3 linked regions of the Homo sapiens genome follow. The protein of the gene in region 3 purifies or fractionates together with the protein of the main gene of each other region. This does not show direct contact. Each region holds a gene or a part of one and is shown on either strand. Other genes may lie near its edges.

The links.
Region 1: the proteins of TMX1 (region 3) and UFSP2 purify together in Homo sapiens (affinity purification with mass spectrometry; 2 studies listed by BioGRID and IntAct, with this or other methods). This does not show direct contact.
Region 2: the proteins of TMX1 (region 3) and PODXL2 purify together in Homo sapiens (affinity purification with mass spectrometry; 2 studies listed by BioGRID and IntAct, with this or other methods). This does not show direct contact.

Annotation. Positions count from the first base shown.
Region 1 is NC_000004.12:185,399,037-185,402,510, forward strand, and holds the end of UFSP2 (ufm1-specific protease 2), read right to left. Parts: intron 1,688-3,474; exon of another isoform or gene 1,443-1,687; coding exon 1,356-1,442; 3' UTR 982-1,355; coding exon of another isoform or gene 981-981; 3' UTR 742-980; coding exon of another isoform or gene 534-741; 3' UTR 501-533; downstream 1-500. Other genes in the region: ANKRD37 (ankyrin repeat domain-containing protein 37), read left to right, coding at 534-741. UniProt on the Homo sapiens protein: Thiol-dependent isopeptidase that specifically cleaves UFM1, a ubiquitin-like modifier protein, from conjugated proteins, such as CD274/PD-L1, CYB5R3, DDRGK1, MRE11, RPL26/uL24, TRIP4 and RPL26/uL24.
Region 2 is NC_000003.12:127,631,639-127,639,184, reverse strand, and holds part of PODXL2 (podocalyxin-like protein 2 precursor), read right to left. Parts: intron 1-7,546. UniProt on the Homo sapiens protein: Acts as a ligand for vascular selectins. Mediates rapid rolling of leukocytes over vascular surfaces through high affinity divalent cation-dependent interactions with E-, P- and L-selectins.
Region 3 is NC_000014.9:51,235,005-51,244,168, forward strand, and holds the start of TMX1 (thioredoxin-related transmembrane protein 1 precursor), read left to right. Parts: upstream 1-5,242; 5' UTR 5,243-5,288; coding exon 5,289-5,440; intron 5,441-8,851; coding exon 8,852-8,967; intron 8,968-9,085; exon of another isoform or gene 9,086-9,164. UniProt on the Homo sapiens protein: Thiredoxin domain-containing protein that participates in various redox reactions through the reversible oxidation of its active center dithiol to a disulfide and catalyze dithiol-disulfide exchange reactions.

The DNA of each region.
Region 1 (3,474 bases), on a different chromosome or scaffold from region 3:
GAAAACAGTGGCTTCACATTTTATGTTTTCTTGGATTAAACTAATCAGACTCCTGAAGCTTAGTTACATGTGCTTTTAAAAATAATGCTTGCGTAATTGATAATTTAGTGTTAATCATTTAAATGTTAACTTAGGTTGTTGGTGCTATCGAATAATACTCAGTTCGAGTAAGTAAAAAGTCAGATCCTGAGCAATCAGAGGTGCAATTTTGTTCATTATGACTGTATTCTACTTCAGTTTCGGTTCAGGAAAACCCATTCTATAGTTCCCATTGACTACCTTTGGGTACTCATACACTGTATTAAACATCAGATAATTCTAACATTCATTCAGAACTGGAATGCCCGCTCTATGCTGGATTCTGTTAGTTGCTGAGGATACAATAGTGACCAAAAATGCAATTTCCTTATGCATCCTTTACCTCTTCTGTTCTGCAACCAACATTTGTATGAGCCCAAAATTCCCTTGTAAGATATAAAAAAAAAGACTTAAGTTCAATGTTTCATTTCACTCCGTTTTTATCCTGTTTTCAGTTTATGTAATAAGAACGGGCAAACAGCTGAAGATCTCGCTTGGTCATGTGGATTTCCAGACTGTGCCAAGTTTCTTACAACAATTAAATGTATGCAGACAATAAAAGCAAGTGAACACCCTGACAGGAATGATTGTGTTGCCGTGCTCAGACAGAAACGGAGTCTCGGAAGTGTAGAAAATACCAGTGGGAAAAGGAAGTGCTGGTAAGTAACTCAGAGCTGCTGCTTTTTTCCTCCCGCAGTGATCTCTTGTTTGCATAGCATTTATTATTCCATTTAATACTGACACTCGTATTTCTAGTAGTATTGTTTCATTCTCATTAACATTTTAGTACTGGTTATACTTACCAGAGTCTAGAGACCAAAAATGGGACTGCATGGTGGAAGTTTGGGGATAAAACTCTTTTTAAAAAAAAGTTTTTAATGTTAACGTGTTTTTAAAAACAGATGTCACGTGGGTTATGAAGAAGTCTGAAGAACGCCTTCATTTCATGCAAATCTATAAGCTCCTGCTTTTGGCTTTACCATATGTTGTGTCTAATCTCCTTCTGAGAAGGACGAAAAACTTTCTTCCAAGTGAAGATCCATTTAAGAACACATGTATTTACATGCCTATAATATGCTGGTTGTGTATGCTTTGTCTTTTAAGTTATTAAAGGAACGTCTAAAAAATACATTCTCCGTGCAGTATTTACAACCTTTGAAAAAGGTCATAATTTAAATCGTCAAACTAGAACCAGGATTTAATGTGAAAAATTAAACTGATTCTTTATTCACAAATTTATAATACCACTCTACTGCAGTCTTTGACTCCAAGATATTTTAAATCATATTTGGTCGCTGAGGAAGACATAAGTTATAGTATGCATCCTTGTTCCAAAAATCTGGGCCCTTCCATCCGCACCAGCCCTGGATAGAGAAGACGGGAAAGGAAAGCCTTTTACAAAGTTACAAGATTATGTCATGGAAATCGTGACATCAGGCTCTGTCAGCAGGACCTTGGAATAAGACTCTAAATGGCTTTATCATTCAAGGATTTGAATTCCTACTAGCATAGAAAAGTAACGTATCTTACCCTTTAAGGTAGGTTTTTGAACTTTTAATTCTATGTATGTAATTCATCATAAAAATCATTAAAAAAAATTTACCTGTAACTGTTATTCCAGATACCACACTTTACTGATTCTGAGATGTATAGTTTTACCACTTGCAACTGATAGCATGTGACAATTGAACTAGCAATCTGTTTTTCTTAATAGTCCATAAAGGACTGTAAGAGACCATTCAGTGGCATCTTAGGATTGAAGTACTGTAGTGAGAAACCTCAGCTTGCCCCCTGCCTGGCACTCTGTGCCCTTTCATTTTCAAATTCCAGGTGTTACTCAATTCTACTTCCCATGTTTCATGTCAGTATTAATCCTTTTTGCCAGCAGAGAAAATTACTTTCAAGCAAAATCTCATTTAGAGTATGAAAATTTCTCAGATTTCTCCTAGGGCCACTGAGTTATTTTATTAAAGAAGAAAACTTAAAAGCCAATAACTGGTCTGTATTATATGATTCTTAAATGCTTTGAGAAATCCTTGCAAGGAGGCTGAGACTCTGAAAATACCATGAAGTGAGTGACAAGCAGCGGTCTGACTCCCTCCTAATAAGATACACGTTGTCAAAAAACAAGATAAAAGTAAAAAATCCTCTACCAGTCCTAGGTAATCCCCCACTCTCCCTAGGTAACCAGCATTCTATTAATCATCTCATTTTTTCAGCAAAACTTTCTCTATTAATTTAATGTCCTAAAATCTGTTCTCTTAACAGACAGAGAAAAAAGGCTCATTCTGTTTTAACCTTTTTTTGATCCTTTTACACATGAAGGCCTTGTCCAGGTAACCAGATCCAGATTTTTTAAAGGAGAAATTGGTAGAGAGGGTGTCAGAATGGGATTGCATAGGGACATAGTGCATAGGACATGCTTCTTTCCTGTGAGATGACCAGCATGGGAACTTCAAACAGGAAAGCACCACAAGAAGGCAAAGAGGTCAGGCAGAGATGGAACTCTCCTCTGGCCTCCTGGGTTCCTGGAGTCAAGTGAATCAATAGTTTTAATGGCAGGACCTTGGCTGCACAGTTTCTTGTGTATACAAATAGAGCAAGGAGGTTTCTGCTGTTGAAAAGTTCTATAGAAATAGAACTAGCAAAGATGGAGATTGCAATTCTCAGAGAAAGAAATCAGGGACAATCCCTTACTCTAATTGTTCAGAAACCTTACCTAGATAATGCCATGTAGTGCAGAGCCCCTTGAGTCAACCAGAAAAGAGAAATTTGATGATGAAAATAATTAAGGCTTCTCCCTGCCTTTAAGAAAAAATCGAAATGCCTGGTTCACAAAGACCACCCTTTCTGACTGAGCTTGGTGTGTCCTTCCAGCCTCACCTCTTCGCCTAGCTCTGGACGCACTGATCTACCTGCAGTGCGGCTTTCACTGTTTCTACAAGGCAGGGGCCACCACAGCACCAGCCTCGTAGAAGCACCTGAGATACCATTTTTTTTTTCTCGAGAGTCCTTTTTGCACTCTCCTTCTCTGTCCTACCCTAAAGGTTTTAGCTCCCGAAAAACCTCGTGTAATACTAGTGCTTAGGACAGTGCCTGGCACTTGTTAGGTACTTTAATAAATACTGAATGGAATGAACACCTTGCTACAGAACAAGAATATTGCTACTATATTCAGTAAGATACATGCACCAGTCAAAAAACCTTTTATAGACTTCAAATTCCAAATGCTGTGAAAGAGAAAAGGAAAAAAAAACACTTAAAACTGTAACAACACATTTCTATCCTATTAGTGTTTATACCCTTATCATAAACAAAAGACTTCAGTAAACTGAGGATATAACAGAGTTGGACTACACACATTAAAAACTTTTTTTTGAGCTGGAATTTCACTCC
Region 2 (7,546 bases), on a different chromosome or scaffold from region 3:
AGGTTAGAGCATGTCTCAAATGACAAAGGTCCTGGGGAAGGGGGGACTTCAGTGGACACTCCTGAAAACCCAGAGGCTTTGCGGGGATTCTGAGACACTATTTTCATTTCAAAAAGGCCAAATTGCTTAGACTTCCCTATGGCAGGGGCAAGGGGAGACAGATGGAGACAGGCAGGGGAGAGAGAGGAATCACTGAGTCAGTGTTCCACTGCGCATGTGGTCACTCAGAAAATGCCTCCTGAGTACCCTCTCTCTGTTGGCAATTGTACTGGGTGTTGGAGCTACAAACTGAAGTGAAGACAGGGCCCATGCTTTTAAGGACCTAGCAGTATGATTGGACGAACACAGTGTTCCCCAGGCTTCCATCCTTGGCTGAAATTTCTCCAAAACTGCATTATGAATATCATTTGTATTTCAGCAATACAGTATCCTGAACATAGTCTTTAGTTTTTTTATTTTTTATTTTTTTTGAGATGGAGTCTTGCTCTGTCGCCCAGGCTGGAGTACAGTGGTGCAATCTTGGCTCACTGCAATCTCCGCCTCCCAGGTTCAAGTGATTCTCCTGCCTCAGCCCCCCAAGTAGCTGGCATTACAGGTGCCCACCACCACGCCTGGCTAATTTTTGTATTTTTAGTACAGACAGGGTTTCGCCATGTTGGTCAGGCTGGTTTTGAACTCGTGACCTCAAGTGATCTGCCCTCCTAGGCCTCCCAAAGTGCTGGCATTACAGGCGTGCGCCACTGAGCCCAGCCTCTGAACGTAGTCTTTTAAAAAACCACGTGAGGTCACAGTTCAAACTCAACCCAGTGCTGGTAATTTGACATATTTGTTTAGAATCTTGGATTCTCTCTCTCTCCTAATTTACCAAAACAAGCAAATAAATGGACAGGAAAACAAATTAAAGGAGGCCTTTTTCCTCTTCTTTCACTCTCATTCTTTAAGGACAGGAATATAGCCCTATTTGCCAGTTTCACAACTTAACCTCTAACTTAATGACCTAACCACACAAATTACTAACTTGCTGTGAGGCTCCTGGAAAGCTGCTCAAGACCTCTGGGTCTCAGTCTCCTCACCAGATAGACAAGGAAGCTAAATGAAATGACCTCTGAATTCTTTTCCAAGACTAACACTTAAGGATCTAGGGAAGAGGGAATTTCACAGTCTTCCTCTTGCTCTACACCAGATGTGTACTGTGACCTGACTTGACTACAGTACATGGCAATTTTTAGTGATGCTTATAATAAAAATAGGGCTAATATTATTGGTGCCATGTGCTTTGCTGAGCAGGCCCTAAGCTTGATACGTGCCAATACTGTGACTGGCCACTGAAAAAAATGAGCATTTCAGACTGTCCTGTGAGTCTCCGTATGAGGGAGTCTGTGCACACTGTGCAGCAGCCAGACAACTCACAGCCAATAATGCCACATCCAGCCACAGGGGTGTATTCTGGGTTGTGTGGATGGGGGATGGGAAGTAGAGACTCCAGGGTAAGAGAGACGCCCTGAGGTCAGAGACAGGAAGATGTTCTATATAACAGGAGAGAAAGCCTGGTACCAGGAAATAGGTTACACTCTGGCTTCTCTGGCTGAGTGACTTCACCACCACCAGCCTTGCTCTCCTCCTCTGTGTAATAAGGACACCAATTCCTACCATGCCTCCAGTGTGAGGGGCACCAAATGAGGTAATTGGTGAGCCATGTGTGAAAGCTGCTCTACAAAGAGCTTTACAAACCAAACTATTCTACAAATATTGTGTTATTATCCTATATAAAAAACAGAGACCTGTGAAGTTCATGGCCCGGGGAAAAAAATATTTAAAAGAGACCATGGTATCTTCAAATACATTAAAACAAAAGGTTGATGTGAATAAGAATATCAGAGTGATTCTACATGGCCTCAAAGCCAACGCCGGGGCTAAGGAGGCATCAGAGCCTTAGCATCTGACCAGGGCTAGTAAACGTCTGTGCCAACCTCTAAGATCCCGTGAAGCTCTGTCTCTCAATAAGATAATTCACAGGCCCAACTCTCAGCTTTAGAAAGTATCATCATAACTAGAGGATGGGGCTGGGTGTGGTGGCTCACACCTGTAAATCCCAGCACTTTGGGAGGCCGAGGCGGGCGGATCACTTGAGGTCAAGAGGTCGAGACAGGCCTGGCCAATGTGGCAAAACTAGTCTCTCCTAAAACACAAAAACTAGCTGGGCATGGTGGCACACGCATGTAGTCTCCAGCTACTTGGTAGGCTAAGGCAGGAGAATTGCTTGAACCCGGGAGGCAGAGATTGCAGTGAACCAAGATGGTGCCATTGCACTCCAGCCTGGGCGACAGAGTGAGACTCTGTCTCAAAAAAATAAAAATAAAAAAATACCTAAAGGGTGGGCAAGCTGTGACCCTGGGCAGGTGGGAGCCAATGGCACTGCTGTGTTGCCAGTGCTCCTGAGGACTGCTCACAGGGGATTGCCTTCTGCCAAGTCCAAACCAGGAAGCTATCACACCCCATCCGGAATGTCTTCTGCTGTCCTAGGCACCATGTCCACGGACAAAGATTCTGCTTCCAGGCAGGGCCTGGCTCCACGAAGCTGAAGTCATGTTCCCAGAGCCTGTGTCTGAATCCCTGACTCAAAGAGAGAAACAGCCATCTCATATTTTGTGGTTTCTTTGAGCCAAAGGTATTTAAAAGGCAGAGAAAGCCAAGACAATCAATTTGGGGTCCACTCCCCTTGAAGTTCCCCTTTGTTCCTGGGAGAGGATGAATTAAGGACTTGTACTCTCTCTAGCTCAAGACTTTCCCATGACCTCTTCCACTCTAATTCCCCTTCACATCACGGGGGGACCCTAAGCTACTCTTGGATTTTTTCCTAGCCCGAATATTATAGAAGAAAGCAGTATCTATCCCCTACTAGGTAGATGGGAAAGAAACAGAGTGCCCTGTCCTACCCCAAAACAGTACCTTCTTAAGGTTCTTCCTGAGAGGGGTTATCCAATGACTCCCAATTAATAACACACATCTTTGCAATGAGACTTTGTAGCTCCTCCCATCAAGAGATGAAATCTAATTCTCCACTCCTTGAATCTGAGCTACCTTTGTGAGTTGCTACACAAGACAATGCAGAAGTGATGATGTGCCATTTCCAAGGCTAGGCATCAAGATACCTTGCACGCTTCCATTCTCTCAGGATTCTGCTCAAGGCTAGCCTGCAGGAAAACAGGAGCCCATGCAGAAGAGAGCCAGATCAGCTCAGTGTCCTAGCTGAAGTCCCAAAGTGAGAGAGCCAGACAAGACCAGCAAAGGTGATAAACAGCTGATGACAAACTTGAAGGAGTTCAGCTGAGACCAGAACCACCCAGCTGACTGCAGCCTAAATTGCCAAACTACAGAATCATGAGCTAAATAAATGGCTACCGTTTTAATCCAGTGCTTTCAAACTTGAACCAGCATGGAATCACCATGAGGGCTTGTTAAAACAGAGACTGTTAAGCCCACCCTAGAGTTCTGAATCCAGCTGGTCTGTGACGGGGCCCAACAATTTGCATTTCTAGCAAGTTCCCAGGTGATGCTTCTGTCCAGGGATCAGATCTTAAGAACTGAGAATCTGAAACCACTAAATTTTGGGGTGATTTATTACACAGAAATAGCCAAATGATACATTAAGACAAATTATAAATCAAGTTCTCCTTTTGGATCAGAGTAGTGTTTGAATGGTTAAATTCCATTCATTCATCCATCCATTCATTCATTCTTCAACCAAAAAGCCTTTATTAAATGCTTATTTGGACTAGGCATGATCCAAGGCTATGTTGGTACAGAAATAAGAAAGATAGGGTCCCTGCCCCAAAAGGGTCAGTTTCTACTACAGAGACCAGCAAGAAAACAAATCATTATGGAATAGTGTAACAGTGACCATATAACTCTGTTTGAGCCACAGGGTTAGTAGGGCAGGGAGAGAGATCTCAAAGGTAGCTACTAACAGAACTGCTCATGGCACTGTACTAACTGTGCTCAGTACACTGTGAAGGAGAAAGGAGGCTGGAGGAAATAACAACACCGGGATCTCAGGAACATGTGTTCAGTTTCCCTTTCTCTAGGGTAGACAACCATGCCACTCAGGGGGGCACATGGCCGAAATGCCCCACACTTCACGATAAAGCAAAACAGCAGAGACGATACAGAAACATAGATGTGTAGACATGAGAGACGCCTCCATTAGAATTACAGTCCTCATAGTGCTTCACCGCTGGAAGAAAAAGAGAGCTCTTTTACGAACCCCTAGCAATTCCCCCTGCACTCATCTGTCCCGAACACTGCCCTCTAATCAGCGCTTCTCAGACTGAAATGTGTGTGAGTCACCCGAGTCTTCTGACACAGTAGGTGTGACTGATGCTGCTGGTCTGTGGACCACACTTTGAGTGACAAAGCTCAGAGAGGTCTTTTTATTTATTTTTTATTTTTATTTATTTTTTCAGACAGTTTCACTCTTGTCGCCCAGGCTGGAGTGCAATGGCGCGTTCTTGGCTCACTGCAACCTCCGCCTCTCAGGTTCAAGCGATTCTCCTGCCTCAGCCTCCCGAGTAGCTGGGATTACAGGCACCTGCCACCACGCCCAGCTAATTTTTTTTTTATTTTTAGTAGAGATAGAGTTTAACCATGTTGGCCAGGCTAGTCTCCAATTCCTGACCTCAGGTGATCTGCCTGCCTCAACCTCCCAAAGTGCCGGGATTACAGGTGTGAGTCACTGTGCCCAGTCAACTTTTTTTTTTTTGAGATGGAGTTTCTCTCTTGTTGCCCAGGCTGGAGTGCAATGGCGTGATCTCAGCTCACTGCAACCTTCGCCTCCCGAGTTCAAGCGATTCTCCTGCCTCAGCCTCCCGAGTAGCAGGGATTACAGGCATGTGCCACCATGACCGGCTAATTTTGTATTTTTAGTAGAGACGGGGTGTCGCCATGTTGGCCAGGCTGGTCTCAAACTCCTGACGTCAGGTGATCTGCCCACCTTGGCCTCCGAGAGTGCTGGGATTACAGGCGTGAGCCACTGCACAGGCCGAGAGGTCTTTTTAAAATGCAAATCTGGTTCTATCATTCTATCATACAGGTCAGATCCTTTGAAAAGGCGAGAAGGCTCTCATAAACTGACCATTACCTCCCCTCCCCTCTCTGCACCCACCTTCCCCAATCATACTCTACGCTTCAGACAAACTGACTACCTGCAATTTCCAGAACACAGCCGCCTCTTTTGCCTTCTGGGTCTTTGCATATGCTCTTCTGCTTGAACATCCGTATCTCCCCATCTCTGTCCTGTCCCACCACCCACCTGCTAATTCTCACTCCTGCCTGCAGTCTCAGCTTCCGAGAAGCTTTCTGTGGCCACTCCAAGTCTGGATGAGACACCACTCCTCTCTATCACAGCCTTCTCAACAAACTACTGTCACGCCACTTTTCTCACCAAATTGTAAGAGACCTTCATACAGCCTCCATTGTAAATGAGGAGTCCCTTGTTTCAATTCCACCCTGTAATTCCAGTGCCTAGCACAACCTTTTACACATGATGGGGACACAATAAAGGTTTGAATAAATAATTAGTAGTCTAATCCAACCCTCTTGTTTTACAAATGAAATAACTGAGGCCTGGTGGGATTAAGGTCAAACAGCTAGTTAATAGAGGAGCTGAAATTAGCTGGTTTCTCCCACACACACACACACACACACACACACACAAAATTTGTAATCCAACCCTCTTGTTTTACAAATGAAATAACTGAGGCCTAGTGGGATTAAGGTCAAACAGCTAGTTAATAGAGGAGCTGAAATTAGCTGGTTTCTCCCCCACAAAAACATCTTGTGGATGCTCCAGGAAGAAGAATGGAAAGCTATTACTTGTGGGGCTGGGTACCTTCCTTCCTCCAAAGGATACGTGAAGGAAGAGAATATGTAAAACAGCTTAAATATTTCATGTGCTTTAAGGGCCAGGGAAAGAAGCCAGAGCTAAAAACTAGAAGATACCCCTTTCCAAACACTCTGCCCAGGGTCCCCACAACCAATCCAATCAATTGAAGGAATCTCTTCTCTTGAAAAAGACCAAATTAGTAAAGTGATTCCCAATGTTTCACAAGCAAGAATCCCTTTATTTACATTTGCATGTGGCCCCTGTGTTTGGAAATGTTTCATCTATAAACTGTACTTATTTAATAGTTATTTTCTAATTTTTGAAAAGTGAATCAGAATCATGTAGTACTGCCAATCAGATGTGATCCAATTATAATTGAACTTTGGTTTCAGGTGGGCTGTGCTCTTATTAGAGGTAAAATTTCTATTAGACTCTCGATTACAAAGAAAAATACAGTCACTCCTGAGCTCCTATTCTGTGCCAAACAGTGTGTTAGGCCCTTCCTGGAGGTGCAACAAGAGACAGATGAACAAGAGACAGGCTTTGCCCTCAGGAAAATTACAAACTCTTGGGAAGTGGAACCCTAAGTTCTTTAGGGGATATGAGCCGATGTAGCAGACTGCTTTGCAAAAGCAGTATCCCCAGGGCTGGCAGGGAGCCAAAATACAAGAAACAAATCTGGAAAAACTCATTCATGCATTCCAGGAAGAAAAAAGTCAACTGATGGAAAATGTTTATAATAATTAAATAATACACATTGTATAGGTTCCCGGGGCACCCGGGCAGCCTGCCTTTGAGAGGGCCATGAACTGGAGATCTGTATCTGCATGCTCCAACCTCCAGCAGGTATGCTGGGAAAGATATTACTTCAGCCTTGTTAGAAAAGTGTAAACTGATTCTCCCTAAGAATTTTGAAATTCACTCTCTACAAAACCACTGAAGGATTAAACACGGGTTGTCTCTCAAACCTTGGCACTCTCTCTCGGAGCTGAACTGTGGCATGGCAGGGAGAGGCTGTGGCATGGCAGGCGGGGAGGCTGCTGCCGTCTACACCCTACTCTGGCTCCTCGGAATGGCTTGGAACTCAAGAAGACTGCTCTGCCCTCTCCAGGTCATTGTGCCCAGAGGAGCCTGTTTCCTTCCCCACTCTGGGGGATAAAACACTTTCTAGTCAGTCCAGCTGTCTGTGCACAGTACTGTGGTCTGGTGTGTTTGCTAGGCCCCTTCCCTGTCATTTCCATGGCTCCAGTGAGCCCCCACCTCTCTGAGCTCTCCCACCTGTCAAGCCAGGAACCCATAACCTTCCTCTAACATCTCTCCCTTTCCTTCTTTGTCTTCCCTTCCCAATGGTCTAATAGGAATTGGCAAAGATTTTGAAAACCCTACTGAAGAAAAAGGAATCTGGTATTTTCCCGGTTTTTCATTCCTTTTCCAGTAAACAGTTTCATTTTCTTAAAGTTATTTTTCCCTCTAATGACTGTTTTGTCTTTACATAGAACTTGATATTTTCAAAGGCCTTGGCAATGGGTATTTATTTAAGTAATTACAAGAGGTTACTTATTTTCAAACTTGCCCACCATAAGATGACACCAAAATAGTAGCTGAGACATAGCCATTCTGTGTATAATTAGTTTTGCACTTAATAATTAATCTGCCTTAATTGAG
Region 3 (9,164 bases):
GGATTAAATATGTAATCAATCAAAGGGCAATCATTGTTAGACTAGGTAGAAAGAAATAAAAACAAAAACAAAAACCCTCAAGGTCTAGTTATATGCTGTCTACAGGAGACACACTTTTCAGATTAAAAAATACAAATGGTTGAAAGTAAAAGGATGGAAAAGATATATCATACAAATAGCAGCAATAAGAAAGCTGAAGTGGTTATGCTAATATCAGGCAAAATGAATATAAAACCAATAAAAAATTCTAGGTGTAAAGAAGGAAATTTTATGATGAGAAGGGTCAATCCTCAGGAATATATAACAATTATAAAGATATATGTCAGAGCCCCAAAATACATGAAACACAAACTTTCAGAACGAAGAGCAAAATAGACAATTCAACAATATTTGGAGAACTTCAATACTCCACTTTCAACAATGGACAGAACAAGTAGGCAGAATATCAACAAGAAACTAGAAGACTTGAACAACACTATACACCAATCAGACCTAACAGACATCTAACTATAGAACACCCAGTGATGGAAGAATGCAAATTCTTCTCAAGTGATGGAATATTCTCTGGGATAGGCCATATACCAGGCCATAAAACAAATCTCAATAAATTTTAAAAAGATTGAAATCATACAAGGTATGTTCTCTGACCACAATAGAATGAAATTAGAAATTAATAACAAAAATAAATTTGGGAATTCACAAACGTGAAAATGAAAAACACACTCCTAAATAGCCAATTGACAAAAAAGGGTATCAAAAGAGAAAATTAGTATATGCTTTGAGATGAATGAAATGATGACACAACAAAACAAAAGTTATGGGATACAGCTAAAGCAGGGTTGGGAAATTTAGAGCTTAAACACATACGTTAAAAAAATAAAGATCTCAAATCAATAATCATAACTTTCATCTTAAAACAATCAGGGTAAAAGGGGGCATAAACCCAAAGCATAAAGAAGAAGGAAATAATCAAGAAGAGAATAGAAAAATGGTAGAGAAAACCAACAAAACTAAAAGTTGGTGCTTTGGAAAGGTCAACAAAATTGAGAAACCTTTAGCTATACTGACTTTGTTTTGTGTTGCTATAACAGAAGGCTGGGTAATTTATAAACAAAATAGGTCATGATTATTAGCTCGTGGTGCAAATGGCTGGGAAGCTCAAGGGCATGGCCCTGGCTTCTGGTGAGGTCTTCTGTGCTGGGTCATAACATGGCACAGAAGGTCAAAAGGGAAGCGGACAAGTGCAAAGAGAGAAAACCTAAGGGGTATCCTGGCTTTATAACAACCCATTCTCAAGGGAACTAATTCATTCCCAAGAGAACTAATCCAGTCTCATCAGAGTGAGAACTCACTCACTATGAGAACAACACCAGGGCCAGCATTGAGGCTATCACCTTTACTTGGGAGGCTGAACTGGAGGAGCACTTGAGACCAGGAGTTTGAGGTTGTAGTGAGTCATGATTGCACCATCTCTCCCCAGCCTGAGTGACAGAGAGATACCCTATATATTTTTTTTAAAAAAGAACAGCACCAAGCCATTCACAAGATCCACCCCCTTTATTCAAATCCCTCCCAATAGGCCCCACCTCCCAATACCATCACATGGGGAATCAAATTTCAACATGAGTTTTGATGGAGACAAACTCAAACCATATCCAAACCATAACACTGACCAATAAATAAAAGAAAGAAGACTCAAATTACTAAAACCAGCAATAAAGAGAGGACATTAATATCAATGTTACAGATATAAAAAGGATTATAATACTATGAACAACGTTAGGCCAACAAATTAGACAACTTACATGAAATGGACGTATTCCTAGAAAGATGCAAACTACCACAACCAACTCAAGAAGAAATAGAAAATCATAGTAGACTTATAACAAGAGATTGAATTAGTAATTTAAAAGCTACCTACAAAGGAAAGCCCAGGCCTAGGTGACTTCACTGCTAGACTCTATCAGACAGTTAAAGAAGAGTTAATACAAATTCTTCACAAACACTTCCAAAAAATAGAAAAGGAGGGAACACTTCCCAGCTTATTTTACGAGGCCAGTTATATCCTGATAGCAAAACCAAAGACATTACAAGAAAACTACAGACCAATATCTCTAAGGAATATAGACATAAAAATATGCAACAAAATACTAGCAAACTGAATGTGGCAATATATAAAAAGAATTATACACCATGGCTAAGTGGGATTTATACCAAGAATGCAAGGTTGATTTCATGTCCCAAAATCAATCAATGTAATACACTGTATCTTTGGGAGGCTGAGGCAGGCAGATCATGAGGTCAAGAGAAAGAGACCATCCTGGCCAACATGGTGAAACCCCGTCTCTACTAAAAATATAAAAATTACCTGGGCGTGGTGGCACGTGCCTGTAATCCCAGCTACTCGGGAGTTGAGGCAAGAGAATTGCTTGAATCCAGGAGGCGGAGGTTGCAGTGCGCTGAGATCACACCACTGCACTCTAGCCTAATGACAGAGCAAGACTCCGTCTCAAAAAAAAAAAAAAAAAAAAAACAAAAAAAACACCATATCAATAGAGTAAAGGACAAAAACCACATGGTCATTTCAATAAATGCAGAAAAAGGATTTGTCAAAATTCAACACTTCTTCAAGATAAAAACAGACGACCTTCTAGGAATAGAAGGAAACTTCCTCACCTGTATAAAAGGCAACTATTTAGAATTCACATTAACATCATACTTAGTGGTAAAAGACAACGCTTTTCTCCTAAGAACAGGAACAAGATAAGTATGTTTGGCCACTCTTGCCATTTCTATTCAACATTGTAATGGAGGTCTAGTGTCTTAGCTTGGGCTGCCATAATAAAATATCATAGACTGGGTGGCTTAAACAATAGAAATTTATTTTCTCACAAATTTAGGAAGTTCTCATTGTACTCAAGGCAAGAAAACTCTGGACTAGGGTGTTGGCTGTTGAGATGGAAATTGGTGGTCAGATTCAGGATACGTTTTGAAGGTAACGTTTACAAGATTTGCTCATAGGTTACAAGAGGAGAAGGTGAAGAGAGAGAACAATAAAGAATTAACATGTACATGTTTGGCTAGAGAAACCTGGTGAACCTCGGGGCTCTTTAGTGGATGGAAGACCAGGAGAGGAAGAATCAAGAATTATCTTTTTTGGCCGTTTGATGTTTGAGCTTCTGAACCCCCAAAATCTGAGACAGGTCTCAGTCAATTTAGGAAGTTTATTTTGCCAAAATTAAGAATGCGCGCCCATGACATAGCCTGAGGAGGTGCTGAGGACATGTGCCTAAGGTGGGTGGAGCACAGCTTGATTTTATATTATATATTTTAGGGAGACATGAGACATCAATCAACATATGTAAGATGAACATTGTATTGGCCTGGAAAGGTGGGACAACTCAAAGCAAAGGCGGGACAAACTCGAAGCCAGGAAGGGGCTTCCAGGTCATAGGTGGGTAAGAGACAAATGGTGGCATTCTTCTAAGTTTCTGATTAGCCTTCCAAAGGAGGCAATCAGATATGCATTTATCTCAGTGAGAAGAAGGATGAGAGGCAGGTTTGCCCTAAGCAGTTCCCAGCTTGACTTTTCCCTTTAGCTTAATGATTTTGGGGCCCCAAGATTTCTTTTCCTTTCACCAGCTATTACATACCCAAGAGATGTTTAGCAAGGAGTTGAATACATATGCCTGTAGTTCCCAGAAGGATCAGAGTCTGAATGATATACAGTTGAATACATATGCCTGTAGTTCCCAGAAAGATCAGAGTCTGAATGATATACAGTTGAATACATATGCCTGTAGTTCCCAGAAAGATGAGAGCCTGATGATATGAAGAGAAAGGTGGCGGGAGATGGGGGGCGGGGGGCAGTAAAGCATCCTGGAGATGCCGATGTCCGGAAGTAAAGGAGGACCAGCCAAGAAGTTTGAGAAGAATCAGCTACTGTAGGACAGAAAAAAAAGCGAGCTGCCCAGACAGCAAGATAGTAAAGTGTTTCAAGGGTGTGGTAGAATGGGGCTAGGAGTCATGCTAGATGCATTGAGAAGAAACAATTGGGATTTATCTTGCTGGTCGCTGGTGTCCTTGAGAGGGCTATTCAGTGGAGGGGTGGGGAAGGGGACTAATTGGGGTTAATTAAGTTGAAAAGGTGAGGTAAGATAGTGGCAACTATTTCCTTGAGACTTAGTCTCTCTCTATAGCCCAGATTGGAGTGCAGTGGAATGATCTCGGTTCACTGCAACCTCCGCCTCCCGGGTTCAAGCGATTCTCCTGCCTCAGCCTCCTGAGTAGCTGGGACTACAGGCGCCTGCCACCACGCCTGGCTAATTTTTGTATTTTTAGTAGAGACGGGGTTTCACTATGTTGGTCAGGCTGGTCACAAACTCCTGACCTCAAGTGATCCGCCTGCCTTGGCCTCCCTGTTTTGCTAGGATTACAGGCGTGAGCCACCGCACCTGCAACTATTTTCATTTGACTGATGGGGCAGTGCACATTTTGGTTTGCATTTGTATTTACGAATGTTTGAGAGAAAAAACTCAAATATCTTACAAGCCTATGTGTCTGGTTCCATTTTGAAGTACTGACCTAGGATCTCTGTACCTACTGAATTTTTTTTGAGAGATAACATACACCTGAAAGTGCATAAAGTGCACTGTCTTAAAATGTACAGCTTGATCCTTCTTTAAAAAAAATCATATACGTACGCCCATGTAACTACTGTTCATATCTAGATGTTGAACACCTCCAACACATCCAACATAACCATAATGTTCCTCTGCACCTTCCCTGTCTATAATCTCTCAGAAGTAAACCAATATTCCGACTCCTATAAAATCCATTAGCTTTACTACATGTTTCAAAGAAAACAAATGAGAACTCTGAAGGACATTTAATTGGAAAACTGCTTTAGCACATTATAAACTTACCAATTTGCTTGTAAACGCTAACCATTTGGCGCCAAAATCCTGGGAGGGTCTTTTAAACCGTTCTTCCTCAAAGCACCGCCCCACTTTTTACACCACGCCTCCTTTTGCTCTGTTCCTTCCCCCACAATATTGGGACACCCTAGGCGGTAGAAGCAGCCGCTTTTCTGTCATGCGCATTGCGGAGAGTCGTTCTTCCCTCTTTCCCGACTTCACCACTCACTGGGATCAGACCCCTGTCATGCGCATTGAGAGTCCTCTAGACAGGCGCTCCTCGCAGCACCGTAGTGCGCTTGCGCTGAGCAGCCCGCGAGGGCGGAAGTGGGAGCTGCGACCGCGCTCCCTGTGAGGTGGGCAAGCGGCGAAATGGCGCCCTCCGGGAGTCTTGCAGTTCCCCTGGCAGTCCTGGTGCTGTTGCTTTGGGGTGCTCCCTGGACGCACGGGCGGCGGAGCAACGTTCGCGTCATCACGGACGAGAACTGGAGAGAACTGCTGGAAGGAGACTGGATGATAGAATTGTGAGTGCGGGGCGGCCAGGGTCCTACGTCCGTGCCTGGACACACGACTTCACCCCGCACGTTCCTCGTGCGGGTCGCAGGCTCCCCAGGACTGCGCCTCCGAGTTGCGGAGCGAGCGTCCCCGACTTCTGCAGCTCCCCAAACTCTTGGGATCTGCCGCCAGCTTGGTCCCACCCCCTCGTCTCTTACCCGTGAATGTTAAGTTTCTTCTGGGGTGCACCCTCGTTTCGTTTCTTGGGTTGTGGTGCGCCCAAAGGGTTAGTGCCAATGCGAATTCTGACATTTTTCATGACTTTGAGGATGCGACTGGGGCGCGGGGAGGGAGGTGTCCGACTCGTGTCTAAGTAGTTAAAGTGATTCTTCACAGACTTCTACACTTATTTTCACCACATTTTACATAAGAGAATATTGAGCAAAATTTCTCCTCTCGTTTTGTCTGTCCTTAAAAGATAGTCTCTTTATGGTGTTGGAATTTGGCGCTTTTAAGCTTTTTTTAATGGATTGGGTACGTTTCTTTTTTATTGTAAATACTGAGTCAATTCAAGTTGGGTTATTTTTAAGTTTTCGTTTTCTCTTTTTGCCTCCTCTTTTGCTTTCTCTTTTTTTCACTCCTCATCTCATTTTTCCTTTGGGTGTCTTTGTAGTGTAGAGAATACCTTGGGTTGTGACTCCTAGGTCTTTGTAAATGGTATTACATTAAAAGATAATGTATTAATGTATACACTCTCAAGAGCGCCAGGTCATCATTTATTGCTCGAACGAAATCATGTATTTTGTGTGGTGATTTCAATTTAATAATATCTGTTCTGCCGCGGTGGGAAATAAAGTATCTGTCTTTGCTTTAGATGCTAAGTCGTTGTTGATGGTGGTATTATACATATTAGCAGTATTTACTGATAATAGTAAAAGCATAATTATTAACAGTGTACTGGACACCACTAAGCACCTTTACACGAATACCATATTTAATTCCCTACAAATTCTCTATGACAGGTGTTTTTCACGTTTTACAAATGAGTAACAAGATACCTAAATACTTTAGTTAACCTATGCAGATATTGCTGTGCTGGCTTTCTTTGGGTCTTCAGAGTAGGCATACAATAATTGTTGTTAGAACACCTTCTTCTTTAAAAAGGTTCAGCTGGAAGTGGCGTACGCTACCCAGGAGATTGAGGTATGAGGATGACTTGAGCCCAGGGGTTCAAGAGATCCTGGGCAACTAGCAAAATAAATAAGTAAATAAATAAAAATGAAAAGACAACAGGGTTCAGGTGAGTGTTTTCTTGTGTCACGAATACAGCAAGGGTTGTCAAGTTAAGGAGGCCAGTGAAAGTGACATCCCCAAGGGAGAACCCAGAAGGCTAAATCAGTAAGTCCTGTGTTATTTTTTAAAAAAACAAAACTGGCCGGCGCGGTGGCTCACGCCTGTAATCCCAGCACTTTGGGAGGCCGAGGCCGGTGGATCACGAGGTGAGGAGATCGAGACCATCCTGGCTAACACGGTGAAACGCCGTTTGTACTAAAAATACAAAAAATTACCTGGGCGTGGTGGCACGCGCCTGTAGTCCCAGCTACTCGGGAGGCTGAGGCAGAAGAATCGCTTGAATCTGGGAGTCAGAGGTTGCAGTGAGCCGAGGTCGCACCACTGCACTCCAGCCTGGGCGACAGAGTGAGACTCAATCTCAAAAAAAAAGTAGAACATTTATATGGAGGGTAAGATAAAGGGAAATTTTCATAGTATGCATGTAGTCTGCAATTCTGAAATGAATTTTCATTCAGGCACCATTGAAAGCTTCAGGGGAGAGGAACTGTGACACTTTTTCAGTCATCATCATGAGTAACTTGTTTTAGATCGTGCCTGTAAAATAGTGTTATAAGCAATATATTAAGCAATAGTGATCGTGTGTGTATATGCAAAATACAGTCAAGTATTACTCAAGGATATTTTTTAACTCATTATGGTCCAACTATATAAATACAGCAATCAGAAGTAGTATTAAGGAGAACAAGACTAACAAAACATTGAGTATGAGGTAAATCCACATTGGAGCATCTATCTGAAATTATGCTATAGAGTAGTAGTTTTTCTTTTTCCTTAAGTAGAGATTCTAAAGTAAGTTTTTAGAAAGCAACTGACAGCCTGGGCAACATGGCAAAAACCAGTCTCTACAAAAAAATACGAAAAATTAGCTGGGCGTGTGGGCAGGCATCTGTAGTCCCAGCTACTTGGGCTGAGGTGGGAGGATGTCTTGAGCCCGGGAGGTTGAGGTTGCAGTGAGCCCAGATGGCGCCACTGCCCTCCAGCCTGGGTAACAAAGCGAGACCCTGTTTCAAAAAATAAAAAAGCAACTGAGCAACAAAACGAACCTGAAAAAGAAGGACTCTAGTAGTTTTAGTAATAGTCTGCTCCTAATTACAAGTGAATTATCTACAGTAAATCCATTTCTGCTCAGAAGTTTTGTCATGGAGATATTTTCATTGTAATACGATTTATTGTTAGGAGCTTGGCTTTTATACTACCAGTTTGTCTTGTTCTACAATGTCTATTTTAGGAGTTTGGTTTTCATAAAACAAGTGAAGAAAATGTGAAGTACAGAAAGTATAGTTTTGTGTTTAACTGCTTTAGGCTTTATTCTTCCTGGTTCTGTTAAAAAAAAAAAAAAAAAAAGAACAACCCTGTGGTGTATTATAAGATAAAATACAATAAAGTGGAAAAATAAGATCCTCAGGAGATAATACCAGAGGAGTAATTTAAATGCTAATATGCTTGCATTTGTAAATCCAAGGTCTTGGAAACAGGATGACCTAACTGGCCAAGAGTTTTGTTTGGCCTGCTTAGTATTTGTGTGTGGGTTATTTTTTGAGGTAACATTCTCATATAAAAATGCAGCTCTCCATCTTCTTTTAAATATGAATAGCCAGCCTTAGTGTGCCAGCATCCTTAGTGGCAATCCTACTTAATAATGGTTGCCACTTTAAGATGGAATATGTGCTTTCTTATTCACCACAGCCCAGGACACTTCTGTTTTTCCAACACCTTGCATTTGTGACTCTGCATTATAAATTATTAAAATTGGTAAGCTCTAACTTTGGTCTTGAGCTTTCTGGTGGCCACACCGTTAATAGAGAAATGCAAAAGTTTTCTAAAGAGCTGTTTTGCATGTGAAAAAATCCTGTGTCTTATTCTCAGAATTTTATTTGATTAGCATCATCAGTTCATCATTCTTGATTTCCGGATTGTTAGATCTACCCTTAAAAGTTTTTCATCTGCATAAAATTAACCACCTTATCATCTTCAGTGTTTTCATATGAAATATTCTTCATAAATTATACATTTAAATTTTTTATCCCAAGATAAATGGTCATACTAAAGTGCTTAACTTTTTTTAAAAAAAAATCTGTATTTCTTAGTTATGCCCCGTGGTGCCCTGCTTGTCAAAATCTTCAACCGGAATGGGAAAGTTTTGCTGAATGGGGAGAAGATCTTGAGGTTAATATTGCGAAAGTAGATGTCACAGAGCAGCCAGGTACTGTAAGTCTTTGGTTAGTTTTGTTTCTTTGCTGTTTGGGTTGATATATTTATCCTTTTTTCTACATTGCATAGTCTTAATTCTACCTTTCTTTAGGTTTTGAAAACCTAACAGTCTGCAGCTAGTTAACCTGACTTGTCCACCTCCCTGCTGGGGGCTCAGTGTGCAATGGTTGCAAAATGGAGATTCCCTGG